4 linked regions of the Homo sapiens genome follow. The protein of the gene in region 4 interacts with the protein of the main gene of each other region in a biochemical or structural test. Each region holds a gene or a part of one and is shown on either strand. Other genes may lie near its edges.

The links. Proteins that work in one complex are often made in the same cells at the same time.
Region 1: of the proteins of PECAM1 (region 4) and LCK, one has a biochemical effect on the other in vitro, tested with the Homo sapiens proteins (one study listed by BioGRID).
Region 2: the proteins of PECAM1 (region 4) and INPP5D form a complex in vitro, tested with the Homo sapiens proteins (one study listed by BioGRID).
Region 3: the proteins of PECAM1 (region 4) and CD38 form a complex in vitro, tested with the Homo sapiens proteins (one large-scale study listed by IntAct).

Annotation. Positions count from the first base shown.
Region 1 is NC_000001.11:32,278,252-32,282,846, reverse strand, and holds part of LCK (tyrosine-protein kinase Lck), read right to left. Parts: intron 3,177-4,595; coding exon 3,100-3,176; intron 3,007-3,099; coding exon 2,853-3,006; intron 2,769-2,852; coding exon 2,637-2,768; intron 1-2,636. UniProt on the Homo sapiens protein: Non-receptor tyrosine-protein kinase that plays an essential role in the selection and maturation of developing T-cells in the thymus and in the function of mature T-cells. Plays a key role in T-cell antigen receptor (TCR)-linked signal transduction pathways.
Region 2 is NC_000002.12:233,160,829-233,165,423, reverse strand, and holds part of INPP5D (phosphatidylinositol 3,4,5-trisphosphate 5-phosphatase 1), read right to left. Parts: intron 3,701-4,595; coding exon 3,598-3,700; intron 1,718-3,597; coding exon 1,521-1,717; intron 1,118-1,520; coding exon 1,000-1,117; intron 1-999. UniProt on the Homo sapiens protein: Phosphatidylinositol (PtdIns) phosphatase that specifically hydrolyzes the 5-phosphate of phosphatidylinositol-3,4,5-trisphosphate (PtdIns(3,4,5)P3) to produce PtdIns(3,4)P2, thereby negatively regulating the PI3K (phosphoinositide 3-kinase) pathways.
Region 3 is NC_000004.12:15,776,478-15,781,709, reverse strand, and holds the start of CD38 (ADP-ribosyl cyclase/cyclic ADP-ribose hydrolase 1), read right to left. Parts: upstream 3,383-5,232; 5' UTR 3,296-3,382; coding exon 3,063-3,295; intron 1-3,062. UniProt on the Homo sapiens protein: Synthesizes cyclic ADP-ribose (cADPR), a second messenger for glucose-induced insulin secretion.
Region 4 is NC_000017.11:64,376,636-64,381,230, reverse strand, and holds part of PECAM1 (platelet endothelial cell adhesion molecule precursor), read left to right. Parts: intron 1-3,113; coding exon 3,114-3,407; intron 3,408-4,595. UniProt on the Homo sapiens protein: Cell adhesion molecule which is required for leukocyte transendothelial migration (TEM) under most inflammatory conditions.

The sequences.
Region 1 (4,595 bases), on a different chromosome or scaffold from region 4:
TTTAATTAATTTATTTATTTAATTTATTTATATTTATTTTTGAGATGGACTCTCACTCTGTCACCCAGGCTGGAGTGCAACAGCGTGATCATGGCTCACTGCAACTTCCGCCTCCAGGGTTCAAGTGATTCTCTTGCCCCAGCCTCTTGAGTGGCTGGGACTACCAGTGCCCAACACCACGCCTGGCTAATATTTTTGTATTTTTAGTAGAGGCAGGGTTTCACCATGTTGGCCAGGCTGGTCTCAAACTCCTCACCTTGTGATCCACCCACCTCAGCTTCCCAAAGTGCTGGGATTACAGGTGTGAGTCACCGTGCCCAGCCCCTAGAGTGCTTTTAAACAATTTGAATCAATCGCCAATAAATGGAAATGAACAGATTTTCCTAAAACTCCAAGTTTGGGCTTCTCTTAAAAAAACAAAAGATCTGTTTTTTTGGGTCCCCCACGCCTTAATTGCAGCCATCTGCTGGAGCAGCTGCAAGTTTACCAAGGTCCCCATTTCTCCCCATTGTCTCCCTGACCCTAATGCTATATGTCAGTTGCCATTTATCATCATGCTTTCACTGCCTATTTTCTTCTAATAGATACATTCCCTATGGGTTTGCCTCTGTGGGAACCGGGAAGGAGCAGTGAGGACCCCTGGCAGGATAACTGGAGAATATTTCTGTATTTCCAGCTCCAGCACTACCCCTGGACGCTGGTTTGGGGCAAGCCCAGGGCAGGGAAGCCCCTCAGCTTTTCACCTGTTTCCAAGGTGGTTGTTTTTGTTTTTGTTTTGAAACAGAGTCTCACTTTGTCACCCAGGCTGGAGTGCGGTGGCATGATCTCAGCTCACTGCAACCTCTGCCTCCTGGGTTCAAGCAATTCTCCTGCCTCAGCCTCCTGAGTATCTAGGGTTACAGGCGCGTGCCACCATGCCCAGATAATTTTTATATATATTTTTTTTAGTAGAGACGGGGTTTCACCATGTTGGTCAGGCTGGTCTCGAACACCTGACCTTGTGATCCACCCGCCTCGGCCTCCCAAAGTGCTGGTATTACAGGTGTGAGCCACTGCATCCGGCCTTCCAAGGTGTCTTTACCTTCCTTGGAGCAAAGGTCTGTTCACCTTGCTCTGGGGATATGGGAAGCTTCTACAAATCTAGCCACTGTGCCGCATGACCCCCCTACTCCTGTCTTTATGCTCCATTTCCTTTCCCCAGAGTTTCTTAGCAAGTTCCTTTCAAAAATTCCATCCCTGTCTTGGCTGAATTCAGGGGTAAAGGGCTTTGTCCAGGAGATGGTGGGAGGAGTCAGTGTATACTGACAACCTACTATGAGTCAGGCTCTTTCACAAATGGTCTCTCATTTTTTCTTTTTTCTTTTTCTTTTTCTTTTTTTTTTTTTTTGAGACAAATTCTCTCTCTGTTGCTCAGGCTGGAGTGCAATAGAACAATCATGGCTCACTGCACCCTCAACCTCCTGGGCTCAAATGATCCTCCCACCTCAGCCTCCCAAATAGCTGAAACTACGGGTGTGTGCCACCATGCCCAGCTAATTTTTAAATGTTTTTTTTGTTTGTTTGTTTTTTTTTTTTTGTAGAGATGGAGTCTCTCTTTTTCTTGTTTTGAGACAGGGTCTTGGTCTATTGCCCTAGGCTGGAGTGTTATGGCATGGTCTTGGCTCACTGCAACCTCTGCCTCCCTGGCTCAGGTGATCCTCCCACCTCAGCCTTCTGAGTAGCTGGGACTAGAGGCACATGCCACCAAACCTGGCTAACTTTTGTTTTTGTAGAGATGGGGTTTCGACCAGTTTCCCAGGCTGGTCTCGAACTCCTGGGCTCAAGCAGTCCTCCCACCTTGGTCTCCCAAAGTTCTGAGATTATAGGCATAAGCCACTGTACCTGGCCTAGTCTCTTATTTTTAGTATCAGGAAACTGAGGCTTAGAGAAGTGAAGTGACTAGCTTCACTAGTTACAGTAATGATCTGAACAAAGCCAAACAGAAAGTTAGCAACAGTGGCAGATCTGCTGATAAAAGGTAGGCCTCTTGTTCCTGAGCTAGATCTTCTTCTACCATACCAGGCTGCCTGGGCCAGAACTAAAGAAAAGAGCTGGGGCCGGGTGTGGTGGCTCACGCCTGTAATCCCAACACTGGGAGGCCGAGGCAGGCCAATCACGAGGTCAGGAGATTGAGGCCATCCTGGCTAACATGGTGAAACCCTGTCTCTACTAAAAATACAAAAAATTAGCTGCGCATGGTGGCACGTACCTGTAATCCTAGCTATTTGGGAGGCTGAGGCAGGAGAATCACTTGAACCCAGGAGGCAGAGGTTGCAGTGATCCAAGATGGCGCCACTGCACCCCAGCCTGGGAGACAGAGCAAGACTCCGTCTCAAAAAAAAAAAAAAAAAAAAAAAAAAAAAAGAAAAAGAAAAAAAGAGAAAAAGAAAAGAGCTGGGGTTATTAAAGAGAGATACGGAGATGGAAGCCAGCCCTGGGAGATGTGGCATCTGCCTGGGGACGTTGGACTCATACCCCTGAGAAGATAGAGGAGATGCAGCTACAAAGTTTCAGATTCTGAGACTGGAAAGAATTGAATGGGAAGACATGGACTTGCCCTTCCCATCACCCTTTCAGTTCCTGCCCTTGGCTCTAACCTGGGTAAGGGATGCGGCCGTGGGTGACAATTTCCGTCAGCAGGATCCCAAAAGACCACACATCTGACTTGATGGTGAATGTCCCGTAGTTAATGGCTTCTGGCGCTGTCCACTTAATGGGAAACTTGGCCCCTAAGGAGGAGGCAGAGTGAGGTCACCTGGGTCTGCTTGGCCAGACCCTGCAGGGCCCAGACCACCCTTAAATCTCACACGTACCCTCCCTGGCTGTGTACTCGTTGTCCTCAATGAGGCGTGCTAGGCCAAAGTCTGCAATCTTGCAGCTCAGGGTGTCAGACACCAGAATGTTGGCAGCCCGAAGGTCACGATGAATATAATTCCGCTCTTCAATGAATGCCATGCCTTCTGCAATCTGCAGGCCAAACACAGATCAGCGGTCCTGAGCCAGATGTCTTCACGTCACTGGTCTGTTCCCTTGCCCAGCCCCCCTCCCCAGTCTCCTTACTTGGGCTGCCATGTCCAGGAGTTTGTTGATGGTCAACTTGATGCCTGAAGGGGTCTTGAGAAAATCCACTAGACTCCCTGTGGGCAGAAGCAAGAGTTGCTGGCCCAAGTTGCCCCAGGGGGAGGCCCCCAGACCTTTCTCCTCCAACTGGGAGTCTAGAAGTGTGTCTGACATGTGAAAAGGAAGATTGAAGAGTGAGAATGGAGGAGTGTGTGTTCAGGGTAAGGATGCCCAGGATATGTAAAGGTTTTTTTGCAGAGGGGCTAGGGTAGAGCATGCTGGGAGGGATCTGTAGGTTTTTCATCACCAATAAGGTAGAACCTAGAATCCTCAACTAGTATCCTAAGCTTGGCATGGTCCACACTGGTAGCTTCTTCTCTTTCCCCCACTCTGCCTTTGACTTCAAACAGTTTAGCAATTTTGAGATCCTGCACTCAGACCACTAGGCTCTCACCCCAAAGCCTCTTTGTTTCATCTCTGCCTGCTAAAAAAAATTCTACTTTTCTTTCGTGGCCCTGCTAGACTGCCCCACTAGGAAGCCTCTCTAGATCCTACCAGGCATAATAAACTGGATCATCATCTACACTCCCATGGGCATGCTGGAACTTTCCCATGGCACAAACTCTGGTTTCCCCAGTAGCTGTAACTAAAATCAGGTTTCCCTGACAACAGGAACCTTGTTTCATCCATCCATGTTCCTGGTGCCCAGCCGAGAGTAAGAAACAATAACTATGTGCTGAATATATTGGATGGAATAAGAAAGAGGGGGTCTGGGGGTCTGAGGGACCACCTCTCTAATAGTGGAGGGCAGCTGGACATGGATGGGAGTTGCTAGGATGCAGTGAGTGACCAATGGCCCTTCCCAAGAGATTAAAACCCTGTAAAAGGATGACAGCAACCTGAGTGTCCCCACTTTGAGTGCTGAACTAGTTACCAAAGACAAAGACCTCACCTACACACAGCAAATACATAGACATAGATATACTGCCATTCTTCCATTGTATCCATGGCAGATGTTACTAATCATTCCTGGCACTCACTTCCAATGAACCTCAGAATCCTTCTCCAGCACTACAAGCAACTACCAATCAAAGTCGATACACATGATAGGCTGGGCATGGTGGCTCACATCTGTAATCCCAGCACTTTGGGAGGCCAAGGCGGGAGGATCACCTGAGGACAGGAGATCGAGACCAGCCTAGCCAACAAGGCGAAAACCTGTCTCTACTAAAAATACAAAAATTAGCCAGGCATGGTGGCACATGCTTGTAGTCCCAGCTACTTGGGAGACTGAGGCATGAGAATCATTTGAACCCAGGAGGGGGAGGCTGAAGTGAGCCGAGATCATGCCACTGCACTCCAGCCTGGAGGACAGAGTGAGACTCAAAAAAAAAAAAGATACACATGACATAATCTATTTGCCATTTCCCATTAGCCAATGAACAGCTTGTTTCTCTTCCTGAAAAAAGGATAGATCTTACACTCCCAAAGAATCA
Region 2 (4,595 bases), on a different chromosome or scaffold from region 4:
ACGGACTCACATATGTAGACTCACATAAACACACACAAACACACATGCATGGACTCACACATACAGACACTCACACACATAGATATGGGTGGTACACTCATACACGGACTCACATACATAGACTCACATAGACACACTCAAACACATGCATAGATTCACACACATATAGACACACACTCATAGATATGGGGTGGTACGCTCACACATTGACTCACATAAACATGCTCACAAACACACATCCATAAACTCTCACACACCTACACAGGCTCACACACTCACATGCACGCTGTCACTCACACAAACTCACATACACAGACCTACTCACACACACATCCTACACAAACACACAGGCTTGCACTCCTACACTTATGAAGACTTCTTGCCCTTGTTACTGCTCTCTGAAGCCAGCAACTCTCCACTGACACCAGCGTTTCCAGATCCAACCTGGTGCACAGGGACCGAGGGCAGGGGCCAGCCACCTCCCGCCTGTGCTTGTAAGGAAGGTCTCACTGGTAACACAGTCACTCCCATTCGCTTTCTGGGTTGCCTATGGCTGCTTTCCCACCAGAAAGGCAGAGAGGAATAGTGTTGAGTGGCCTGCAAAGCCTGAAATATTTACTGTCAGGCCCTTCCCTTTCCTGCAAAAGTTGGCCAATGCCTCTTCTAGGTTCTTGCTTCTTAAAATGGGTCCCACGGGCCGACCAGCAGCGCTCAAGTCGCCTGGGAACCTGTCAGAAACTTGGAACCCTGAGCTCCACCCAAGATCTACTGGGTCGGAACCTGCATTTTAGCTAGATCCCTGGGACTGCTGGTGTAGACCCTGAGTGAGTTTCAGCCAGGGAGACCAATCACCCCTATTTGCTGAGGACTGAGCCAGGATCTGAGGATGTGAGGCTCTCTGTTTTTAACCCGGGGAACTACTGGTGGGATCAGGATGATGTGGTCGCGAGAGTTGAGGCAGAGGGTGTGGGAGGAACACAGGGTCCCCGCCCTGCTCACCCAGTGTGTTTGCAATGCCTGTCTTCACGTTGTCAGTACAGATGTGGCTGATCCGGTTCTCGTGCTCAGGCTTGGCCAGCACCACGATGCGGATGTTCCAGAGCGTGTGGATGGCGACCTGGTGGGAGGACAACGTTGCAATACTCGGCCCAAGTGTAGGGTGTGAACCAGGGCACAGTGATTCACACCCAGCCCCAGCCGCAGCCCCTGGGTATGGGGTATCCTGTCTGTAATCCCAACCCTTCGGGGGACTCCCAGCGATGCTTGATAGGCGAGACAAAACATCCTAAAGATGAGAACCGGGGCTGACCAAGGGTGGGAAGATAGAGGACTCAGTGGTTTTCAGCAATACCCCACAGATCCCATTTATTTCTGAATACAGACGCATCTCTCAGTGGGGGCCTCCAGACATCCTTGAAAACTGAGAGCTGATAGGCTGAGCCCACCCTTGCCTCTGAGACAGCCCAGCCGAGCAAAGATTCTATCCCGGAAGCCCACCCAGCGTGCAGCCAGCTGCTCACTGTTTTAAAAGTCACACTGGTGATTTCTTGCAGGGAGTGTTTGAGGATCTCCAGCCACTCCTTCTCACTCAGGGGGTCCTCTTGGGTGCCGATCACGTAAATGTCATGGGGGATGTAGTCCGCAGAGTCGTCCCGCGTCTTTCCCTGCCCCTTGGAGAGAAACCAGGACGTGATCTTCTTGGGAGGGGGGGCGTTACCTTCAACAGCAAAACCCAACACCAAGTGAGTCAAAGGCACATCGAGTCAAAGCATTAGGAGAATTCAAAACAGAGGGCGGGAGTGTGAGGGAGGTCACGTCATTACACAAGACCATCCAGGCAGCCCAAAGAAATGCCTGCAATGGAGGCCTGGGCGCCAACCTCACCCAGGATGTCGGTTAGGGCTAGAGCTCAGTTAAGCCTCTTTTTAAACGTAATGTCAAGTTTCAAGGTATAGAAACACCAGAAGATTCCCTGATGTCAGACACTGTCCTGCACTTTGAGGCTACGATAATTGAGACACAGTCCTGTCCCTCAAGGAACTCACATCCTATTCTCAAGACAGCCAAGGGAACTGACAAGTTTTAGATGGCGGGTTCTAACCCATTGTTGGGAGACAACAAAGTCTCCCTTGCAAGACAGATCCCAGCCCAGAGCGGAGGGATGCCTGGGTGTGAGCCAGAGAAACGGGAGAGTGTGGAAACTCCTCCGCATTCCCATTTCAAAACTGAGTTGAAGAAGCTCAATCAAGAAATTTTGAACGGTTCTCCCTACAATGCCCTTGAAGGATGAGCAAACTTTGTTCCTCAAAGAGATGAGCTTCTTGCCTTACAAGTGCAAAGAAGCCAAGCATTGGAGTAAATGGACTGTGGCTAAATTCTGCTCCCCCAAGAGGCTCAAAGTGGGTGCCCGAACCCCCGGGCTGGTGGGTCCCCGGCCCTCCTGCGGCATGGCCTCAGCTGGCTCCTTCCATACTCTTCTGTGGGAAGGGCACCCCTGCCCTTGTGTCATGGACATCCCTGACCATGTCCAGAGGGAGGAGATCAGGCAGACTATTGTCTCTTATTAGAAACACTGAAAGGGACCGAAGGGGACAAGTGACCCCCTGGGGCACTGGCCCGGGCTCTACTCCACGGCTGCTGTGGCCCTGGGACACGAGTGACAAGCTGTCACTTCACTTCCAGGAGGCCCCTGCCAGCCACTGCTCACCCTCTTCCTCCCAGACTCCTCTCAGGACAAGGGTAGGGGACACACGACACCCAGTGAAATTCCAATTTCAGATAAACTGGTAGTTTTTAGAATAAGTTTATCTGGATGTCTTCTATCTAATTTATTTCTACCTGAACACTTACACTAAAAAATTATTTAGTATTATTTATATTTAGTAGAGTGCATGTGTTTAGTAAATACACAATATATATGTTTAATACAAAATATATTTAGCATATATTTAGTATATTATTAGCTGTATGCTTAAACTAATATTACTTAGTATAATTCATATTTAATATAATAATTACACTTATTTAGCATATGTATATATACTATATATTCAGCATAATGTCTATGAGCATATATATTTAGTATTTATTTGTTTGTAGCTAAACATATACTAAAAAAAATTGTTTCTATGAAGTTAAAATTTAACTGGGCATCCTTTGTCTACGTACCTATCTCTCTGTCTCTCTCTGTCTCTCTCCTGATAAATCTGGCAACCCTACTCAGGGTGGACTTCTTTCTCTCAGGCCTGGGGCCCCTTGGTGAGCTGCCTAGGGCTGGCAGGGTTCCCATGAGCCCCTTCACCTAGATATTCAGACTCTTTCCCTAAAACTTTCCAATTTAGACATACAGAGTAACCCACGCCAGCTGCTCTTGGGGTACGATAGTCCCAAAGCTCGTTTTTCTTACCCATCATCTCAGGAAAAGGGTGGAATTCCTCAGGAAGGAGGTTGTGCGGGTGGGCTGGGGCTTAGGGGCAGGGCCCTGGGGCAGGAAGGAAGGGGACATGGATGTCGTCACTCCACCCCACCTTGAGGATGCCTGAGTCAGGAAAGCAGAAGCAGAGGGGGTGACTGCAGGGAGGGGGCGCGCGGACCCACCCATGTTCCAGGTGCCGATGAAGATGGTGATCATGTCGGGCTCCGGCTGCTCTGAGTGCTTGTTCTTCATCTGCTGCAGGAGCTGGCAGAAGCCTTCTCTCTTCTAGGGATGGAAGGGCAGACAGACTTAGAAAGGCCTCTGCCTCCCTGCACATTACACTTTGCAAAGGACTTGGTCAGCTTCAAGAAAACTGAGAGGAGCGTAAATCAGTGTGAACTTCCAGGACAGCAACCTGGAAACATGTGTCCAAAGTCATAAGCGAGTGGCTTCTGGCCTAGACACTCCCCTGCAAAGGTGCGACTTTAACAAAGTGATCAGGAGCTGCGCAGAAGTCCAACCCTGTCACGGCTCTGCAGCACAGGCCTCAGCACAGAAAAAAATCAGAAGCAACCTTACTGTCCAGCCTTAGGAGATTCATTAATAATGTATCAGAGGGCCAGGTGTGGTGGCTCATGCCTGTAATCCCAGCACTTTGGGAGGCCGAGGTGGGTGGATCACCTGAGGTCAGGAGTTCGAGACCAGCCTGACCAACATGGTGAAACTCCTGTCTCTACTAAAAATACAAAATTAGCCAAGCGTGGTGGTGCTTGCCTGTAATGCCAGCTACTCGGGAGGCTGAGGCAGAAGAATTGCTTGAACCCAGGAGGTGGAGGTTGCAGTGAGCCAGGATCGCATCATTGCACTCCAGCCTGGGTAACAGAGCTAGAGTCTGTCTCAAAAAAAAAAAGTATTCTAGACCATCCATAAACTAGAATATCACAGTGTTTAACAAGTGTGATCCAGAACTATCTTGCCAACAAGGACAGGTGGCCACAATATATATTTTTAAGCATGAAAAGCTAGTTGACAAATGATATGAATAGCATCATTGCATTTTTAATAAAACATTTGGGCCTGGCACAGTGGCTCATGCCTGTAATCCCAGGACTTTGGGAGGCTGAGGCAGAAGGATTGTTTGATCCCAGGAGTTTGAGACCAGCCTGGGCAACATAGGGGA
Region 3 (5,232 bases), on a different chromosome or scaffold from region 4:
GTGATGTGAAGGTATTTTTTAGATTTTAAGTCAGGAGACTCGGTGTAAAGCATGTTACCCTTCATAATGTGGTGGGCCTCATCCAATCAGTTGAAGGCCTTAAGAGAAAGACCAAGGTCCCAGAAGTAAAAGAGAATTCTGCCAGAGACTGCCTTTGGACTCCAGCTGCAACATCAACTCTTCCCTGGGTCTCCAGGCTGCTGGCCTGTCCAGCAGATTTGGGGCTTGCCCGACTTCACAATGATATAAGCCAATTTCTTAAAATCTCTTTCTCTCTATTAATGTATTTATATTATGTTATATAAATGTTGTTTCTCTGGAGACCCTTACTACTATACTGTAGCATTAGTACTAGGAATGTGTGACAGGCAGGAGAGGAGAGGTCTAAAGGAGACTGTTAGTGCAGGCAAGATGGACTTGGGGGAAATTGTTAGCAACTAGAAGAAAGGCAGACCCTATTATGTCCTGGTAAAAAGTTTGGTAACACTGTCACCTGTCACAATACAAAGTGCAGAAAATATACCTAATGATCTTATAGGTTTGGTAAGGAGATTTCCAGGCAGAATGTTGAAAGTGCCAACTCACTTCTTTTTTTGGTTTGGTTTGGTTTGGTTTTGAGACGGAGTCTTACTCTCTTGGCCAGGCTGGATCTTGGTTCAGTGCTACCTCCTCCTCCTGGGTTCAAGCGATTCTCCCACCTCAGTCTCCAGAGTAGCTGGGATTACAGGCACGCGCCACAACACCCGGCTAATTTTGTATTTTTAGTAGAGACGGAGTTTCAGCATGTTGGCCAGGCAGGTCTTGTACTCCTGACCTTAAGTGATCCACCTGCCTGGGCCTCCCAAAGTGCTGGGATTACAGGTGTGAGCCACAGTGCCTGGCCCAACTCACTTCTTTTAGCTGTTTCTGATAAGGTGCAGAAAGAAAGAGAGAAAATAATTCTTTATTTTTTTAAAAGCAGAATCAAGAGCAAACATTTCCATGCCAGGATTTGTTGGGTTTGAAAATAAAACTGTCATTGTTAGTCTTTCCAAAGAATATCAAAAAAGAAATAGTCTCAAGGCAATGATCGAGTCCAGAGTGCTGCCAGTAAAACATGTTCACAAGGTCAAGATTTCAGGGATGTGGCTGTAAGACTGTATGTGTGTGTGTGTGTGTGTGTGTGTGTGTGTGTGTGTGTGTGTGTGTGTGAGAGAGAGAATATTATCTAAAATATATAAAAATCTCCCATAAGAAATAAATAAGCAGCTCAATAGAAAGTATCAAGTATCTGGACAGGAAAATCACAGAAAAAAATATAAATGGCAAATAAACATATACAAGATGCTTAGACTCACTGATACTGAGGGAACAATTAGATGCTCTTTTTTCTCTTAAGTAAAAAAGTTGAAAATATTCAGCATTCAAGAGATTGTGGGAAAGCATCCCCTCTGATAGACTGATGATGGGAGAGTAAAATGGCACAACTATTTTGGAGTATATATGGAATACCTGGAATTTGGAAAAATCAAAACTTAAAATATGCATAATTCTCCCTTTTACTCAGCAGTTTCATCACTAGAAATCTATCCTACAGAAATACTCCCATATGTACACACAATGTATGTATGAAGATTTTCATTGCATCATGTTTCTCCCAACTAAGGTGAAAATTTCATGAGTGAGAACTTCGTCATTCACTCTTGTGTCATCAGTAGCTAGATCACTGTCTGGAACATAGTGGGTGCTCAACAGATACTTGTTGGATGAATGAATGGGATTGAAAAATTGGAAACAAGCTAATTTCCTGTCAATAGGAAATGGTTACATCTAGTTTATGAAATACTATGGGCTGTCAAAAGAAATGAGATAGATCTTTATGTACTCACATTGAAAGATCTTCAAGACCAGTGTTACTTTTTTTTTTTTTAATGAGGTTGCTTTCTAACATTACCATTTCATTTTGGATTTCACTTCATACTTTACAATACAGCCTGGAGGAACGCCTCAACTTCTAGTTTCTCTCTCCATTAAGTATCTAATTATGTGTAAATAGAACAACTAACGGGACGCTGGGAAGCCCAGGAGGCAAACATTTTGCAACCGGAACTGTTGAGTGTGCTCGGAGAGGCGAGGGAGGTCTATTTGCTCGTTTCCTCGGATTGCTTAAATGCGGGATTTTGCTATCCCAAAGCACAGAGTGTAAAGTAGCAGCTCCCCCTGCCTGCCTTCCCGGCTTCTTCTGTTTTACAAGCAACGATAATTTCCCGGTGAAAGCGAGGCCTGGGAATCAAATCCAAAAAGTGGTTGTTCCCTTTAGGAGAGGTTAGTAGCTGGAAAGGAGCATGAGAAAACTGGAAGGTCCCATAGACTAATGTGTTTTTTTTCCAAGGTTTGTACAGATTCACCGAGTTGCTGCGCCTTATCATCTAAGTAATGTCTCGGTTTTAGAAGTTGACATTGTTTTGTTAATTACTTCTCTGGTCACATGCATTTCAGGCCGCGCAAAAAGAATCGGAGTGCTGCTTTATATAAATGAATAAAACTAAGTTCCGTGGTTTGGCCCTTCTACACCCTCCTCCCCTACCACAGGCTTTGCAAACCACTTAAGTGTCCTCTGTAACCGTCCGGGGGCACTTTCGGGTCAGAGACAGCGGGCGGAAACCGCAGAAAAAGTTGAAAATGTCAGCGACACCCTGCATCTGCGAGTTCTATTCCGTCCCTGAAGCGGTGAAGCGGGCTGAGCGCGCCGAGGGTGGGCTGCAGCCCGGCGAGGGGCTGGGCTCAGGGCACCTTGCCCAGAAGGCGGGCATCGGTGCCAAGTGTTCACCGGCTACGCAGCAGAGCCACCGAGCAGCGCCCCCCCCCGCCTCCCGCGGGCACGCTCGGTGCCAAGGCCAGCTGCTCCTGAAAGCGGCCCGCGGAGCCCCGAGCCCGGGACTCCCTACTCAGCACCACCCGGCGGGCTCTCGGCTGACCCGCCACGGAAGATGCCCGGTTCCGGGCGATCCGGGCGGCTTCCCTGCGCGCGGGGCCCTGCTGTCCCCGCAGTGCCCACCGGTGCGCCTTAGTCGCCAACCCACCTCATCTCAGGATGAATTTCAGTGTACTTGACGCATCGCGCCAGGACGGTCTCGGGAAAGCGCTTGGTGGTGCCCGGACCGCTCCACTGCTGGCGCCACCTCGGGACGACCACCGCGAGCACCACGACGAGGATCAGGACCAGGATACTGACGCCAAGACAGAGTTGGGCTCTCCTAGAGAGCCGGCAGCAGGGTTTGTCCCCGGACACCGGGCTGAACTCGCAGTTGGCCATAGGGCTCCAGGCGGGGTTGGCTGGGCGAAGATGAGGCCGGCAGGAGGCTAGGCAGCAAGAGAGAGGCTGGCTGGGTTCTGAAACTGCACCTCCCCTTCTGTTTCACTTGCCTTTTCTCTGTTTCCCTTCCCACCCCCAACCCCTTGCCTCAGAGTTCCGTGGCTGGTTACACCAATAAGAGTTTAAAAGACCAACAACTATAGGCTCCTGTGCAGTGACCCACCCACTCCACCTCCAGGGAGAAACAGCCACCTTAATCCTCTGCAGGTGTCCTAAGGGGGCAGACAGTACATCCTTATACTCCCTCCGCTAACTCCCTTCATCAACCGGGCACTTTACACCTGAGCCACATTTGCTTCCTGGAAAGCATGAGGGTGGGCTGCCTGCTTCTATACGTGTGTGCACACAATGCCCTCTGCCTGGAAAAGGATGTCCTACCTCTCTTTCTTAACTCTGACAAATGCCTGGTCAACCACCTTTAAAGACTCAACTTAAGTCTGACTCCTTCTCTCAAGAGGCATCAGTGGCTAAGCTCTGGGTTCAAATTTAGTTCTTGCTGGATGACATGGGGCAAGTTACTTAACCTCTCTGTACTTCAGATGTAAAGCCGGGATAGTAGCAGTACCTACTTCATGGGATTGTTACGAGGATTAAGTGAGTTAATATCTACAACGTGTTTAGCACAATACCTGGCACATGGTAATCACCCAGTAAATGTAAGTTGTTACTACCAGCTCTAGGAGCTGCTCAGAGATGCAATTTTATAGTCCATGGAATGTGTTTGAAGCAGGGTCTGGCACACAGTAATAATACTGCACTCTATGCGGGAGTTTAATAAATAATAAAGTGGCTTTTCTTGCCTCTTCTTTATTAAGAGAACATCTGTGACATTCAAGCAGAGACCTAAGTAATGTGAGCGATCAAGTCACCCAACTCCCTTGGGGCAAACATTTCCCAAGCAGAGGAAATGGCAGGTGCAAAGACTCTGAGGCAGAAAAGCTCTTGGCCTGTTCCAGAGCAGCAAGGAGGCCAATTGTAGTTAGGCTAGAGGGTTGAGGGAAACAGAACAGAAGTTCGGAAAGTAGCAGGAGACCAGATCACCCATAGCTCTGTAAGACAGGATGACTTTTTGGACTGTGTGTTTTATTTATTTTTTATCTTTTTTATTTTGTTTTAAGTTCTGGGATACATGTACAGGACGTGCAGAGTTGTTACATAGGTAAATGTGTGCCATGGTGGTTTGCTGCACCTATCAATCCATTGCTTAGGTATTAAGCCCCTCATGTTTTAGCTATTCTTTCTGATGCTCTCCCTCCCTCCACTCTCCCCAACAGGCCCCAGTGTGTGTTGTTCCCCTCCCTGTGTTCATTGTTCAGCTCCCACTTATAAGTGAGAACATGCAGTGCTTGGTTTTCTGTTCCTGTGTTAGTTTGCTGAGGATAATGGCTTCCAGCTCCATCCATGTCCCTGCAAAGGACATGATCTCGTTCCTTTTTGTGGCTGCACAGTATTCCCTGGTGTATATGTACCACATTGTCTTTATCCAGTCTGTCATTGATGGGCATTTGGGTTGATTCCATGTCATTGCTATTGTGAATAGTGCTACAATGAACATATGCATGCATGTATCTTTATAACAGAATGATTTATATTCCTTTGGGTATATACCCAGTAATGAGATTGCTGGGTCAAATGGTATTTCTGGTTCTAGATCTTTGAGGAATCCCCATACTGTCTTCCACAATGGTTGAACTAATTTACACTCCCATCAACAGTGTAAGTGTTCCTATTTCTCCACAACCTCACCAGCATCTGTTGTTTATTGACTTTTTAATGATCACCATTCTGACTGGCATGAGATGATATTTCATTGTGGTTTTGGTTTGCATTTTTCTAATGATCAATGATGTTGAGCTTTTTTTCATATGTTTGTTGGC
Region 4 (4,595 bases):
AAGATAGAAATGAATCAGTTGTTCAGCATAAACACAGTGTTTCCTGGTGCTGTTGGAACACTTTGTGAAATTAGGGACAATATCTCATCAACATCCCAGACCAACATCCCAAAAGACCATTTAATAGCTTGCATCTGTGCTTCTCCCTACCCCATAGCCCCTCCCTCCAGAGATGACCACTATGCTGACTTGTAAAATATTAATCTTATATCCAGCCACCTTTCTTTTTCGTTTGTTTGTTTGTGTTTTTGCAGACAGAGTCTTATTCTGTCGCCCAGTGCAGTGTTGTGATCTCAACTTACTGCAACCTGTGCCTCCCAGGTTCAAGTGATTCCCCTGCCTCAGCCTCCCAAGTAGCTGGGATTACAGGTGCATGCCACAATGCCTGGCTAATTTTTGTATTTTTGGTAGAGACGGGGTTTCACCATGTTAGCCAGGCTGATCTCGAACTCCTGGCCTCCCACAGTGCTGGGATTACAGGTGTGAGCTGCCATTCCTGGCCTTATCCAGCCACCTTTCTAAACTCACATTTATTTCTAATAATTTGTCTGCAGACTCTTTGAGGTTTTTACATATCATGTCATCTGTCTTTGAGAGTTTTAAACATTGGACTGCTCCATTCACTCAAAAATTTTAAAAAATTCCATGATTGCATTATTCATACTTCATGGAGATAGATGGGGGGCTAAGAAAGCATACCAGACATAGTCACTTTCAATCCCAGGTCCAAATGCTGGATAGGTAGCTTCCTTGAGAATGGGCATGGTAGAAATTTCTGGGGGGACGTGTAGGGATTTGGGAAAAACACCTGGTTTTATGGTCATGGACTTTCAGTACATTTTTTTCCAAATCCCCTACAGATCAATTACTTTTTCTCTTTTTTATACTTATTTAATTTTTTTTAGATGGAGTTTCGCTCTTGTTGCCCAGGCTGGAGTGCAATGGCGCGATCTCAGCTCACTGCAACCTCTGCATCCCGGGCTCAAGCGATTCTCCTGCCTCAGCCTACTAAGTAGCTGGGATTACAGGCATGTACCACACCCGGCTAATTTTGTATTTTTAGTAGAGACAGGGTTTCACCATGTTGGTCAGGCTGGTCTTAAACTCCTGACCTCAGGTGATTCACCCACCTTGGCCTCTCAAAGTGCTGGGATTACAGCCGTGAGCCACTGCGCCTGGCCTCTTTTCTTTCTTTTTTTTTTTTTTGAGACAGGATCTCACTCTGTCACCTAGGCTGGAGTGCACTGGCATGATCATGGCTCACTTCAGCCTCGACCTCCCAGGCTCAGGTGATCCTCCCACCTCAGCCTCCTGAGTAGCTGGGACTACAGACACATGCCATCATGCCCAGCTGATTCTTTTGTATTTTTGTAGAGTCAGGGTTTTGCCATGTTGCCCAGGCTGGTCTCGAACTTCTGGGCTCAAGCGATCCTCCTGCCTCGGCCTCCCAAAATTCTGGGATTACAGGTGTGAGCCACTGCACCTAGCTTCATCCATATTTTTTTTAGCCATGTATAGAACATGAGATGTTTGAAGTTGTTTTCTGACAGGAATTTGGAGAGTGAATATTTTATGGTGCTGATTAAACCCAGATTCATGTGCTTGGAAAAGACAACCACAGGGAAGCTAGTGAGTGCTTTGAGATATGTCAAGGGGTAAAACTAAGACCACAAGTGGGCTGCAGAAGCACCTACAGGCATTGCCAAGAGGATCTCCAAAAAGCAGTTCACCCTGGTCTGCTCTGAAGTTTGGATACAAGTCCTGACCCATGGGCATGGTTCAGGATCTTCTAGCCTGGAAAATTTTCAGGGCAGTTGCCCACAACCAACCAACTGACAAAAACACAGCAATAGCTAGAGAGCACCCAATTTTAAGCAATCCACCCTTCCGTCAGCCTGCTACTGTGAATGAGCCTCAATATGTGATCTGTAGTTAGCTGAATTCTATTGACAGCCTATGGTTACTGGATATAAGCCAATTCTGTTCTGGGGACTTGCCAGAAATGACACAATTGGCCAGTTGACCCACAGCCTAGTTCCTAGCAGAGATTGGATAGCTGATTGAGCATTGTGGCTGTTTTGAGGCTTGACCAGAGATTCCTGCCGTTGGCAGAGGGGAATCTGTAGTCTTTGCTTCTTGGTAGCAGGTGAGGCTGAAAACGCAAGTAGCAGGCTAAAAACTGGTTTCAAGTCCTCACCATCTGGTGAAACCTCAGAGCCCATCAGATAGAAAATGCCAGCTGGGACTGTGCTAATTCGGTAAGGCCTGGGTGGAGAAGGAGGGCCTGGGCACGACCATCTGGTTTCGGAATGGAGGTAGCAGTCATTTATTAAGCACTTAATGTATATCGGGCACTGTACAGGAGACGTTCTGGCTGTTCTCCTGTACATTTCCTGCAAAGACCTAATGAGATATGATTACTCCATCCTACAGGTAAGGAAACTGAGCTCAGAGAGTCTAGCTGCCCAGGGTCACACAGTAAATGATGAGCCAGGACTTGAACACTTGACTGCTTGAATCCTGTACTCCCTCCAGGGGCCAAGATGTGGCAGCTCACAGAATGCCTATATCTTTTTTTTTTTTTGTCTTTTGAGACAGTCTCACTCTGTCGCCCAGGCTGGAGTGCAGTGGTGAGATCTCACCTCACTGCAACCCCCGCCTCCCAGGTTCAAGTGATTCTTGTGCCTCAGCCTCTCAAGTAGCTGGGATTACAGGCCTGCACCACCAAACCTGGCTAATTTTTGTATTTTTAGTAGAGAGGGGGTTTCACCATGTTGGCCAGGCCAGTCTCTAACTGCTGACCTCAGGTGATCCACCCACCTTGGTCTCCCAAAGTGCTGGGATTATAGGCGTGAGCCACCATACCTAGCTCTACATCTTTATCACACTCTGTTCCTTTGCCTTGGTGGGAAAAGTTGCAGCTTAGTACCAACTGCCTCCTGCTTGAGCCACTGTGCACAGTTACTATCAGCCTGGCCCTGTAGGCACGTAGAACCCCTGGACTCAATACTGCATAGGATGGGATAAGACCACATCTGATGTGGTGAAGGTCACCGGGATGATGTTGTTTCTGAGATAACAGGTATGTCTGCCTTCCTTCCCTTTGCATTTAGCTTTCACAATCAACAGTGTTGACATGAAGAGCCTGCCGGACTGGACGGTGCAAAATGGGAAGAACCTGACCCTGCAGTGCTTCGCGGATGTCAGCACCACCTCTCACGTCAAGCCTCAGCACCAGATGCTGTTCTATAAGGATGACGTGCTGTTTTACAACATCTCCTCCATGAAGAGCACAGAGAGTTATTTTATTCCTGAAGTCCGGATCTATGACTCAGGGACATATAAATGTACTGTGATTGTGAACAACAAAGAGAAAACCACTGCAGAGTACCAGGTGTTGGTGGAAGGTGAGTCCTTGGAACTGAGCACAGGCAAGCAGATGGAGCATAGCACACAGTGGCGTGAATAACAGCTGTGAATGAATAGTGACACTGGACTTAACTCTCCACCCATCACCCTCTCATTCATCTGCCTGGCATTTTCCTTACCTGAATACGTAAGCACTAGACATATTCCCAATAGGCCAGGCCCTTCCTTCCTTCCTTCCTTCCTTTCTTTCTTTGATGGAGTCTCACTCTGTCACCCAGTCTGGAGTGCAGTGGTGTGATCTCGGCTCACTGCAACCTCTGCCTCCCAGGTTCAAGCGATTCTCCTGCCTCAGCCTCCCAAGTAATTGGGATTACAGGTGTGTGCCACCACACCTGGCTAATTTTGTATTTTTAGTAGAGATGGGGTTTCACTGTGTTGGTCAGGCTGGTCTCGAACTCCTGACCTCAAGTGATCCACCTGCCTTGGCCTCCCAAAATGCTTCTTCATCTCGTCTCATAAATTAAAATTTCTTCTTCAAGACTCAACTCAATGATGTCTTCTCTTTCCAAAACAAAATGGGTCTACCCCAGGGTGCCAGTCAGTACAGCTCTGATGCTCTCTCTACATTCAATGGTATTTGTGTGTATAAAGGCCACAGCGGTGTGTTAAGACACCTCGTTCTGCAGTCACTCTGCCTGGGTTTCAATCTGGGCAAGTCCCTTAACAGCTCTAAACTTCAAAATCCTCACCAGTAAAAGGAAGATAACAACGATACCCATTTCAGGCAATTATTGAGAGGGTTAAAAGTGTCATGTGGGTAGAGTGCTTAGCAAAATTTCCAGCACCTAGTGAGTTCCTAATAAATAGAAATGTATTTATTTATTTTGAGACAGAGTCTTCCTCTGTCACCCAGGCTAAAGAGCAATGGCGCGACCTTGGCTCACTGCAACCTCTGTCTCCTGGGTTCAAGCGATTCTCCTGTCTCAGCCTCCCAAGCAACTGGGATTACAGGCACGCGCCACTGTGCCTGGCTAATTTTTTGTATTTTTAGTAAGGATGGGGTTTTACCATGTTGGCCAGCCTGGTCTCGAACTCCTAACTTCAAGTGATTTACCCACCTTGGCCTCCCAGAGTGTCAGGATTACAGGTGTGAGCCACCATGCCCGGTCCACAAATATTCTATTTCACTCAGTATTGCCATCCATTCTTACACATCTGTCTGCTCT